Linked DNA regions of Homo sapiens. The protein of the gene in region 3 purifies or fractionates together with the protein of the main gene of each other region. This does not show direct contact. Each region holds a gene or a part of one and is shown on either strand. Other genes may lie near its edges.

Region 1 (3,651 bases), on a different chromosome or scaffold from region 3:
TCAGCTGAAAAGGGGACAGGTGGGTGTGTAAATTAAGTGTTGTAGTTGTTGGCATATTAGCTGCCTACGTCTCTGTTGGAAATCAACAAGGCAGAAGAGCATGCCAGGGAAAAAGCCTGGGGAGAGGAGCAGACTGTGGCTAGTGAAGAGCAGATAGAAGCAGAGAGAACTAGGAGTAGCAGAAACGAATGAGAAGGGCAGGGATAGAGCCACCCCCACCCGCCCTTTGCAAGGTGTGCTCCAGGTGTGTGGCACGTGGCAAAGAGTCCTCACATTTACACTGCCCTTGAGAAATGCATTCTAAAAGCAGATGGAGTTTGTGCTGAATGTGTTCCAAGGCGCCCCCCCCGGCCCCCCTGCTTTAATCCCCTCTCACCTTGTCCCACACCTCCTCAGTGACATCCATTATGCTTCCAAAGAAAGGGTTGACAGCAGCATTGGAGACTAGGATATCGATACCTCCATGAAGCTTCACAGCCTAGAGAGAGGGGTAAGTTCTGGACCAGGGCTGCAGTAAGTAAGGGAGGTGCATTTACCCATGTTGATAAAAACTTCCTTCTGGGCAAGGAGCTGTGGCTCATGCCTGTAATCATGGCACTTTGGGAGGCCAAGGTGGGAGGCTCACTTGAGCTGAGGAGTTTGAGAGAAGCCTGGGCCATGCAGCGAGACCTTATCTTTATATTAAAAACAACAACAACAATGACAACAAAATCTTCCTACTTAGGAACTATCGTCAAAATAACTTCTATTTCTTAAAACATCTTTTTTGAAAACTACCCTAAGATCTGCCGCTAACCATTTAAGGTTGGCTTCTTTCTTTTTTAGACGGAGTCTTGCTCTGTCATCCAGACTGGAGCACAGTGGCATGTTCTCAGCTCACTGCAGCCTTGACCTACTGGGTTCAAGCCATCCTCTTGGCTCAGCCCCCCAAGTAGTTGGGACTACAAGTGCGTGCCACCACACCCGGGCAATTTTTGTATTTTTTATAGAGACAGGGTCTTGCCATGTTGCCCAGGCTGGTCTGGAACTCCTGGGCTCAAGCCATCCACCTGCCTCAGTATCCTAAAGTGTTACAGGCGCGACCCACCAGGAAGTTGGCCCTATTTCTTTTGCAGTGTTTTCTTCCCACCTCCTATTCTTCCAAGGCTGTCTCTGACGCTCTTTTCTTTACACTTCCCCTTTGGGAAGCTCCTTCATTCTCATGATTTCAAGTCTCACCCCAAAATCTATTTCCAGACCCCTCCTCTTCCTTTCACACTGAGTTCCACCCACATTTCTCCAAGTGCTTACTGTCCAGTTCTCCTTGAATAAGTTACCATTATCTCAAAGTCAATCTGTCCACACTTACCTGAATGGAAAAACTGGCTTAAATAGAGCTGTAGAAAGTTACCCTGGAGGGGCCTTTGAGATCATCTATTCCAGTGTCCTTAAGGTGGAGATGATGAAATAGGTTCAGAGAATTTTCTCAAGATCTTATAGTTCAGTAGTGGCACACTGGGGCTAGGTAAGAACAGGAGGCCTGCTTATTCTGTGTTTGGGAGGGGTGAAGTGATGTTTTCAGGGCACAAAGCTAGTTAGTGGTGGAAGAACTGAGGTCAGTCTCCCACTTTGTAGCACAGAGCTAATTCATAAGAGCCCTCTGAAAGTGAGTTGGGGTCATCAGGAAACTGGTTGCCCAGGAGAGCCGTGATGGGAGAAGATACCAGCCTGAATTTAAAGCAATTCCATATTTGGTTATGATGTCATTTTCCCTGTCTCTGTCTCTCTCTTTTGACCTGGAGGCATGAAAGATTCAAGGCAGAAACTGAAATTTAAATTGAGAAGGCGAAGAAAGGCAACATCTCACCTCCTTAATAAGTTATAAGTAGATAGTGAGGCCTGTGCTAGAGTAATGAATGGCCAAGCAGAATCTGCCAACAAGGGTTTTCAGTACAAAGCCACCCTGAAACCAGACTTTCCGTTTGCCCGGAACTGGCAATTTTGATGCCTTGGGCAAGTTGCAGTACACGGGCCCTCGGTCAACTTTGTGCTCCGGATTTGGCACACAGAGGGGTGTTACTAACAATGTACACCATCTGCTAGCTTCCCGTTTTAACTAATTATTCTTGTTAACTAGGTGCTAAGCTCAGTTGTTTCTAGACAGTTGAAGGAATGCTGGGCTGTCAATGTGTAAATCTAACAAAATTTACAGTCACATAATCTTTTAAAACCAGTATTAATACTTTCTTGCACCCTTTAAATTTTGGTATCCTGGCACAAAGCCAAGTCACCTGCCTTGGCTCTGTGTAAGTCTCACCAATGGACTTGTTACTAGGGAGGTGCAGAGTAAGTTAATAAGTGATGTGCGCCGTGCTCAGTACACATGTGTTTGGGCTGGGAGGAGACAATGGATTGCTCTAGAATCACCTGGAGACATTTTCTACTCTGCTGTATACCCCATACTCCTCTCCTTCCAGGTCTGTCAGCACAGAGATGGGAGGAGGCTGGGTTTTGATTGAACAGAGACAGCAAACCATAAAAGATGAATGAGGCTGGGTGTGGTGGCTCACACCTATAATCCTAGCACTTTGGTAGGCCCAGTGGGGAGGACCACTTGAGGCCAGGAGTTCAAAACAGCCTGGGAAATACAGCCCCAACTCTACAAAAAATTTAAAAAATGAACTGGTGTGGTGGTGCATGCCTATAGTTTTAGCCACTTGGGAGGCTGAGGTGGGAGGATTGCTTGAGTTCAGGACTTCGAGGTTACAGTGAGCTATGATCATGTCACTGCACTGCAGCCTGGGCAACAGAAGGAGGCCCTGTCTCTGGAAAAAAAAAAAAAAGGAAAGTCTTCTAAGTCTTATTCTAAATTGTGTGATCACTACACCAAAGCGGTTAGGAGCTGTTTGTTCTGTGTTCTGATAGTTATACATTTTTAAGAAAAAATATAATCAAGGAGATAGGCAGCTACTCTGGTTTCCACTTACAACACCAGTGAGAAGCTTCGTGGTGTCCAGATGAGGAGGCCACTGGGTAGTATCCATTCTCAGGAAAGTGGCTTTTCTCATTGCAGGGTAACATGTGGCAACTGGCAGAAGACATTTCAAATTGCTGACAAGTATTCTATCATTCTCCTCTCTGACAATGGTCATACAAACTACTTGAGAGTCATTTTTGACTTCTCTATTTCCCACTTTTTGACATGGGGTTGGAAAATCTTGGTTCGTTTCCACTGAATGTCTCTTGGGCACATCTATTCCAGTCCCACCGCCACTGCTCTAAACCTGGAGGACAGCAACAGCTTCCTCACTGATGCCCTGGATTCGGTGTCTCCTCTGTATATCCTTCCTACCAGAGCCAGATTAGCTTTCCTAATAACCATCTTTCTCTTGCTCAAAACCTCACATGGCTTCTTATTTGCTACAAGGGTGTGTAAACATATCCTTTTAAGAGGCCATATCCTTTTAAGGTCCTTAACGTATCCTTTTAAGAAGCTATGGCCGGGCACAGTGGCTCACGCCTGTAATCCCAGCACATTGGGAGGCCGAGGGGGTGGATCACCTGAGGTCAGGAGTTCAAGACCAGCCTGGCCAACATGGTGAAACCCTGTCTCTACCAAAAATACAAAAATTAGCTGGACGTGGTGGTGGATGCCTGTAATCCTAGCTGCTC
Region 2 (3,751 bases), on a different chromosome or scaffold from region 3:
GCCACAAGATCAGATGGGCCAGTTTATTGATCTGGGTAAGGCCAGCTGATCCATCAAGTGCAGGGTCTGTGAAATATCTCAAGCACTGATCTTAGGAGCAGTTTAGGGAGGGTCAGAATCTTGTACCCTCCAGCTGCATGACTCCTAAACCATAATTTCTAATCTTGTGGCTAATGTTAGTCCTACAAAGGCAATCCAGTCGCCAGACAAGAAGGAGGTCTGCTTTGGGAAAGGGCTGTTACCATGTTTGTTTAAACTATAAACTACAAACTAAATCTCTCCCAAAGTTAGTTCAGCCTTTGCCCAGGAATGAACAAGGATAGCTTGGAGGTTAGAAGCAAGATGGAGTAAGTTAACTTAGATCTCTTTCGCTGTGTCAGTCATAATTTTGCAAAGGCGGTTTCAGTGGTTCTCTGACCCAGCCAATGATGCTAAATTCCCTTATTTTATGTCCCACGTAGCACAACACAGATCACCTTTTTTTTTTTTGGAGACGGAGTCTTGCTCCGTCACCCAGGCTGGAGTACAGTGTTACGATCTCGGCTCACTGCAAGCTCCGCCTTCCGGGTTCACGCCATTCTCCTGCCTCAGCCTCCTGAGTAGCTGGGACCACAGGCGCCCAGCCACCACGCCCGGCTAATTTTTTTGTATTTTTAGTAGAGATGGGGTTTCACCGTGTTAGCCAGGATGGTCTCCATCTTCTGACCTCGTGATCTGCCCACCTCGGCCTCCCAAAGTGCTGGGATTACAGGCGTGAGCCACCGCGCCCGGCAAGATCACCTTTTTAAAGTAGTTTATATTTTGGGTGTTTACTAAGCCCTTTATTTCTATTTATTATTTTTTGAGACAGTCTTGCTGTGTCGCCCAGGCTGGAGTGCAATGGCACAATCTAGGCTCACTGCAGCCTCCACCTACCAGGTTCAAGCGATTCCCCTGCCTCAGCCTCCCAAGTAGCTGGGATTACAGGTGTGCGCCACCACACCCAGCTAATTTTTGTATTTTTAGTACAGACCGGGTTTCACTATGTTGGCCAGGCTGGTCTCGAACTCCTGGCCTCATGTGATCCGCCCGCCTCGGCCTCCCAAAGTGCTGGTATTACAGGTGTGAGCCACCGCGCCGGACCTTACTATGCCCTTTAGATCTGAGCTCGGGCGGCCCCCTCTAGGCAGCCCTGCTGGCCTCAGGTCCCTGGGTCAGCCAGTTCCTCTGAGCTCCGGGGCTCCCACTTTCCCGACCACTCTGGGTTGACAGTGATGGATCAGGAGTATATCTCCCAGTGCTGAGCAAAAAGGCCGCATAGTCTGTCAACCGAATGAAAGGACGGCGTATGAGCGCATTAATGAGTACACAGATGAATGTCCTCTCTGGCTCAAAGTCCTTTTCCGGATTCCCAGGCCATGTCTCCAGAACCCAGACTTCACCCCCGAACCATGCCCCTAATCCAGACTTATTGACTACAGTAAAACTGAGGCACGTCGACGTCCTAAACGGAGGATATACAAGCACCTCCTAGATCAGTGGGGAAACTGAGGCACACGGTGCCGCTTTTGAAATGAAGTTGCCCAAGGACAGCCGGGCAAAGGACCCCGTCCGGTTTCTCCTCAGCCCCTCCCCTAGCTCCTCTATCCTGGAAAGCCCCGTCCAAATTTCTCCCATCTCTCACACTATTGGTTTAACAGGGCATCAGTCTCCAAGCGCTCTCTTCCTTTATCGGCTGGCATTTCCTACTCGCGTGGTGGCTCCTTGACCCGCCCCTTACGCCCCGCCCCGCCCTCACTACTGGGCCACCCGTACGCCCCTCTATCAGAAACCCCCCACTATTGGCCACTGGACTTTGCCGGTTCGGGCTGTGATTGGTCGTAGACAGAAGTCCATCCCCTAAGCAACCACCTGACAGGGGTTGGAGAAAGGAAAAAGGTTGGAGGGAATTCGGGTCAGACTCACGTTGAGCCGGCGGGAGGCAGATATAGGTCTTGAAGAACTCGCTTCGGCGGGCGGCCTCCTTAATACGGTTGGCAAGCGGCTTGCTGACCTGCCGGATGCCCAAGTATAGCAGCTTCGCCATAGGGAACGCGCCCACCACCATCTTGGCGGTCTCACAGGGCACGCGCAACCTTGCTGACTGGGCGGGGCGCCTCAACCTCTTCACTCCTCCCCCGCCCTCTCGTGGCCATGCGTGCGTCAGTACGTATGTACGTACGCTCGAGGGAAACTTCAGAGGCGCATCCTGACGTCACCCCGTCGACGCTGGCGTAGCGACGTCCGTTCGCTGAATATGCAAATATACACGGAAGTGAGGCGGGTCAGGGGGCGGTGCCGTTAAACGGATGCTGGAAGGCGTGTGGATTCCCACGCCCGCCTTGGCCAACGTCACTGTACTCCTTCGTGATGTCACGTTCCGAGTTGGCGTCCCCACCCAAAGGAGGCTCTTAATTAGTCCTAATTAGTCCTATGAGCCCCAAATACACCTTCCTCTGCAAGCTAGGGCTCTCATTGGGATTAAGAGGAAGCCGCGCGGTCATACAGACTTTGGCTGGGATCCCAGCTCTGCCATTTCCTCGCTGTGTAATATTAGATGAGTGGCATAACCTCTCTGGACTTCAGTATTACCGTCTACCAAATGGGAATCCTAATAGCAGTTGCCTCTTTGGGTTGTTGTGAGGCTTCTATGCTAATCTTGAGTGTAAAACAGTGGACCATGGGAAGTGGTTAGAATGGTGCCATTCATATAGTTAAGCGCTCAGTAAATAGCCCTTCTTACTATACAGGTCATGATTGCATTATTAATGCTAAATCCAGCCTGAGGGTGCATTTCACCCCCAGAAGCAGCGAATCCAACCCTTTCCCAAGTAACTGACAAGGAAACTGAGGCCCAGAGCAGGGCAGGGGGTGGCACAAGGTTCCTGCAGAGGTTGATAGCCTGGCATCTTGGCCAATAAAACCATACCCGTTCTCAAGCAACCCAACTTCCTTCATTAGGAGGTAGGTTCCCCAGGGAGCTAGTTCAGAAATAAATTTAAGGACATGTCCCAGACTGTCCTTTCTTACCCAGCAGGGAGTAAAATCATATAAACAATGTCAGGAAGGGGTTGAGAGAAATTCCTGGATGATGGAGTGCTGATGGGTAATTGAGAGATTCTCGGAGGCAGAGGGACAGAAGAAAACAGGAACAGAGGACTGGCCGCCATGGCTCACGCCTGTAATCCCAGCACTTTGGGAGGCTGAGGAGGGTGGATCACCTGAGGTCAGGAGTTTGAGACCAACCTGGCTAACATCGTGAAATCCCATCTCCACTAAAAAAAAAAAAAAATTTAGCCGGGCATGGTGGCGGGCACCTGTAATCCCAGGTACTCTGGAGGCTGAGGCAGGAGAATCGCTTGAACCTGGGAGGTAGAGGTTGCAGTGAGCCGAGATCACGCCGCTGCACTCCAGTCTTGGCGACAGAGCGAGACTCCGTCTCAAAAAAAAAAAAAAAAAAAAAAGGAAAACAGGAACAGAGGAGTGGTGTGTAGGAGGAAACATACATTCAGGACACAGAATCAGGGGGCTCTGGACTTCTTTGGTATCCAGTCTGACTCTCTGAGTGTCCTTTGTCAAGCTCCTGGCACTGAGGGACCTGCGTTTCCTCATCTTTACTGATGGTGCTGGTGTGTGTGTGAACCCTGATATTCTGAATTACTAAGAATGCCAGGATTCCATAAAAACAACCTTTTCCAGGGTCCCTTCCACACGGAAGGTATGCAGAAACTTG
Region 3 (3,651 bases):
CAGGAGGAGGAGGTTGCAGTGAGCTATTATCATGCCACTGCACTCCAGCCTGGGCAACAGAGCGAGACTATGCCTCAGGGAAACCAAAAAAACAAAAACACTGCTTTATAACCTTTGGAGTATTTTTCCCTCTCAAAAAACGCCAATAATGGAAATGATTATTTGTTCATAATTTCAGACAAGTGTGTTCTAAGTAATTCGTACCTATGTAACCTGCTACAAATGTTACAACCAGCTGCTCTGGCTTTGAACATTCACTGCGGGGCTTAGGAACCACAAACTTGTACAGTGCTTCAACAGTACGTTCAAAGCAGGCGAACTTCATCATGGTGTATGGTATCTGTCTCATCCAGAGAGGAGCAACCCCCTTGTAGAATCTAGGAAATCAAGAGACTTGTTTTACACAGTTGCATACACTCATCTATCAGAGACTGTCATTATTAACAGAAATGTCCGCACACGAGTCGAGTCCTGATAGTAACAAATGGCAGCATAAATGCATGTCATTTCTATCAGAACGTTAGACTAACATGCAGGTATATTTCTCTTACATGCCAATGACTCAAGCACCTTTGACTATACAACCAAAAAAGTTGCTGGATGTTTCTTTGACTACTGGAACCACAAGAAACAAGAAGTTTACAAGTGGAACTCAGTTCAAGATTCATCCACAAAGGTGGATCTAAGGAAGCATGTTGTGGTCATGGAAATTCTTAACTGTGAATAGATCACAAGGATACTAACAAGCCCTCCCTAAAAGTTAATAGTAAATGTTTAGGCCAAACATCAAGTCATTTGTAGACCGACAAATGGTCCTTACTCTAGGGAAAAAAAAAAAACTCAGTCCAGGGCTCAAACCATGTATTAACTTATCTTTACCTCTCAAGTTTATGTTCTACATACAGGTAAATAGACATTAAATGTTATAATAGTCTTTTTAAAAAGTCTGGTAGGCTTAATACTAAAAAATGAAGTTCACAGCCAGACGCGGTGTCTCACGCCTGTAATCCCAGCACTTTGGGAGGCCGAGGCGGGTGGATCACCTGAGGTCAGGAGTTCGAGACCAGCCTGACCAACATGGAGTCTCTACTAAAAATACAAAATTAGCCAGGCGTGGTGGTGCATGCCTGTAATCCCAGCTATTCAGCAGGCTGAGGCAGGACAATCACTTGAACCTGGGAGGCGGAGGTTGCAGTGAGCTGAGATAGTGCCATTGCACTCCAGCCTGGACAACAAGAGCAAAACTCCGTCTCAAAGAAAAAAAAAAAAGAAGCCGGGTGCGGTGGCTCACACCTGTAATCCCAGCATTTTGGGAGGCCAAGGTGGGCGGATCATGAGGTCAGGAGATGGAGACGGTGAAACTCCGTCTATACTGAAAAATACAAAAAATTAGCTGGGCGCAGTGGCAGGCGCCTGTAGTCCCAGCTACTTGGGAGGCTGAGGCAGGAGAATGGCGTGAACCCGGGAGGCGGAGCTTGCAGTGAGCCGAGATCACGCCACTGCACTCCAGCCTGGGTGACAGAGCGAGACTTTGTCTCAAAAAAACAAAACAAAAAAAAAAACAAAAAAAAATGAAGTTCACTTAAAATAAGTACTTTCATAGTATAAATTTTTAAGTGTTTACTTACGCTTTTAGGCCTTCTTCCTTATACATTTTGGGAGCTGCATCCCTCAAAGTGTTGGCATAACCTGGCTGGGTTTGAATTCGAACCTTAGCAGCTTCCATAGGAGCCAGGGCAATGTCAGCAAAGAATTCAGCACTGGCAGAGGCAGCCAAATATAGTGATGTGCGCCAGAGATAAGTATTCTCCTAAAATCCAAAACACAAGGAAGGGATGTGAATTGCTGTTGTGTTGGTTTTCAATTGAAGTGACAGTTCTAGAAAACAACTAAGCTTCAGACATTTTATAAAGTAACACACGATGATATGGAATATATATGTGGTCTCATAACCTCATTAACAAAACACGTAACTATGTGAACAACATGAATATTCAAAAAATATCTAGATGCCATGCCCCGGAACTACGCAAAGGAGTCCCAGAGCCCTTCTCTAAAAAACTCAAAATCCAACTTACTTAGAAAACAAGATAGTATATTAAAAGGAGAATTGTAATTTAATGAAATACATTTATCAACCTGTCTCTGCTGACACAGGCATACGATTTAAAACAAGTTGCTCACTTTGTAGGACCATTTTCTTCAGTGCTAAAATAAGGCAAGACAGACAAAAATCTAAGAACACTCGGAAAGTCTTAAACACTCGGAACATTCAATTTTAAAGTTAATTACATACCTCTCCAAGCATATTGCTATACAAGACTTTAAAGACTTCATAAAAGCCAAACTTGCAGAGTCCCTGCATGGAGTAGCCAAGGAAAGTCGGAGCCCATCCTTTAGCCAAACCACGAACACCATCCTCTTTAAGTGTAACTGAGAATCCGTTAAATATGCCCTTGTACTTTTGGGGGTCCACCTTTATTTAAAACAAGAAAAAAAAAATTAAATGCACCAAACAGCTAACATAAAAATTTAATCTCATGATTATTTTTGTTTGGGTTCCATAATAAATTTCAGCAACTACACAAAAGGTAACTACAGTAATTCCTGCCAGGCACGGTGGCTCACATCTGTAATCCCAGCACTTTGGGAGGCTGAGGCAGGTGGATTACCTGAGCTCAGGAGTTCAAGACCAGCCTGGGCAACACAGTGAAACCCCATCTCTACTAAAATACAAAAAATTGGACGGGCATGGTGGCGTGCACCTGTAATCCCAGCTACTCGGGAGGGTGAGGGTGAGACAGAACAATCGCTTGAGCCTGAGGGAGGGAGGTGGAGGTTGCAGTGAGCCACGATGGCACCACTACACTCCAGCCTGGGCAGCAGAGCAAGACTCCATCTCAAAAAAAAAAAAAGAAATACAGTAGCTCTCCCTTATCCAAGAGTTCATTTTCTGTGGCTTCAGTTATCCAAGGTCAACTGACATCTGAAAATATTAAGATATTTTGAGTGAGGAACTACATTCATATAACTTTTATTAGTTTATGCTTATCACTGTTTATTATTGTTCATTTGATTACTTTTATAAATAGAAACTGTTGTACATTAAGGTCTAGCTTTCTGTGTCAAACCTAAGTCTTGGAGTGATAGTTAAGAGGGTAAAATTTCAACAAAAGCTTTCTGTGTCAAACTTAAGTCTTGGAGTGATAGTTAAGAGGGTAAAATTTCAACAAAAATACGTAACAAAACTGATTCTTAACAGATTTCTTACCACCCAACTCCTACTACTTTTTTTGTGTTTTTTGTTTGTTTGTTTTTTGAGTCTTGCTCTGTAGCCCAGGATGGAGTGCCATGGTGTGATCTCAGCTCACTGCAACCTCCACCTCCCAGGTTCAAGCGATTCTCCTGCCTCAGCCTCCCGAGTAGCTGCGACTACAGGCACGCCACCATGCCCAGCTAATTTTTGTATTTTTAGCAGAGATGAGGTTTCACCATGTTGGCTAGATTGAGTTCTGATCTCGAACTCCTGACCTCAAGTGACCCACCTGCTTCGGCTACCCAAAATGCTGGCATTCCAGGTGTGGGCGACCATGCTTGGCCCACCTCCTACTTTTTAAAAGCTACTGTCTAGATAATAGATATAACTGTATT

What was found.
Region 1: the proteins of SLC25A3 (region 3) and DHRS4 purify together in Homo sapiens (affinity purification with mass spectrometry; one large-scale study listed by BioGRID and IntAct). This does not show direct contact.
Region 2: the proteins of SLC25A3 (region 3) and OPA3 purify together in Homo sapiens (co-immunoprecipitation; one large-scale study listed by IntAct). This does not show direct contact.

What each region holds. Positions count from the first base shown.
Region 1 is NC_000014.9:23,956,729-23,960,379, reverse strand, and holds part of DHRS4 (dehydrogenase/reductase SDR family member 4), read right to left. Parts: intron 479-3,651; coding exon 377-478; intron 1-376. UniProt on the Homo sapiens protein: NADPH-dependent oxidoreductase which catalyzes the reduction of a variety of compounds bearing carbonyl groups including ketosteroids, alpha-dicarbonyl compounds, aldehydes, aromatic ketones and quinones.
Region 2 is NC_000019.10:45,582,679-45,586,429, forward strand, and holds the start of OPA3 (optic atrophy 3 protein), read right to left. Parts: upstream 2,125-3,751; 5' UTR 2,087-2,124; coding exon 1,945-2,086; intron 1-1,944. UniProt on the Homo sapiens protein: May play some role in mitochondrial processes.
Region 3 is NC_000012.12:98,596,681-98,600,331, reverse strand, and holds part of SLC25A3 (solute carrier family 25 member 3 isoform b precursor), read right to left. Parts: intron 2,477-3,651; coding exon 2,297-2,476; intron 1,811-2,296; coding exon 1,629-1,810; intron 698-1,628; exon of another isoform or gene 448-697; intron 378-447; coding exon 205-377; intron 1-204. UniProt on the Homo sapiens protein: Inorganic ion transporter that transports phosphate or copper ions across the mitochondrial inner membrane into the matrix compartment. Mediates proton-coupled symport of phosphate ions necessary for mitochondrial oxidative phosphorylation of ADP to ATP.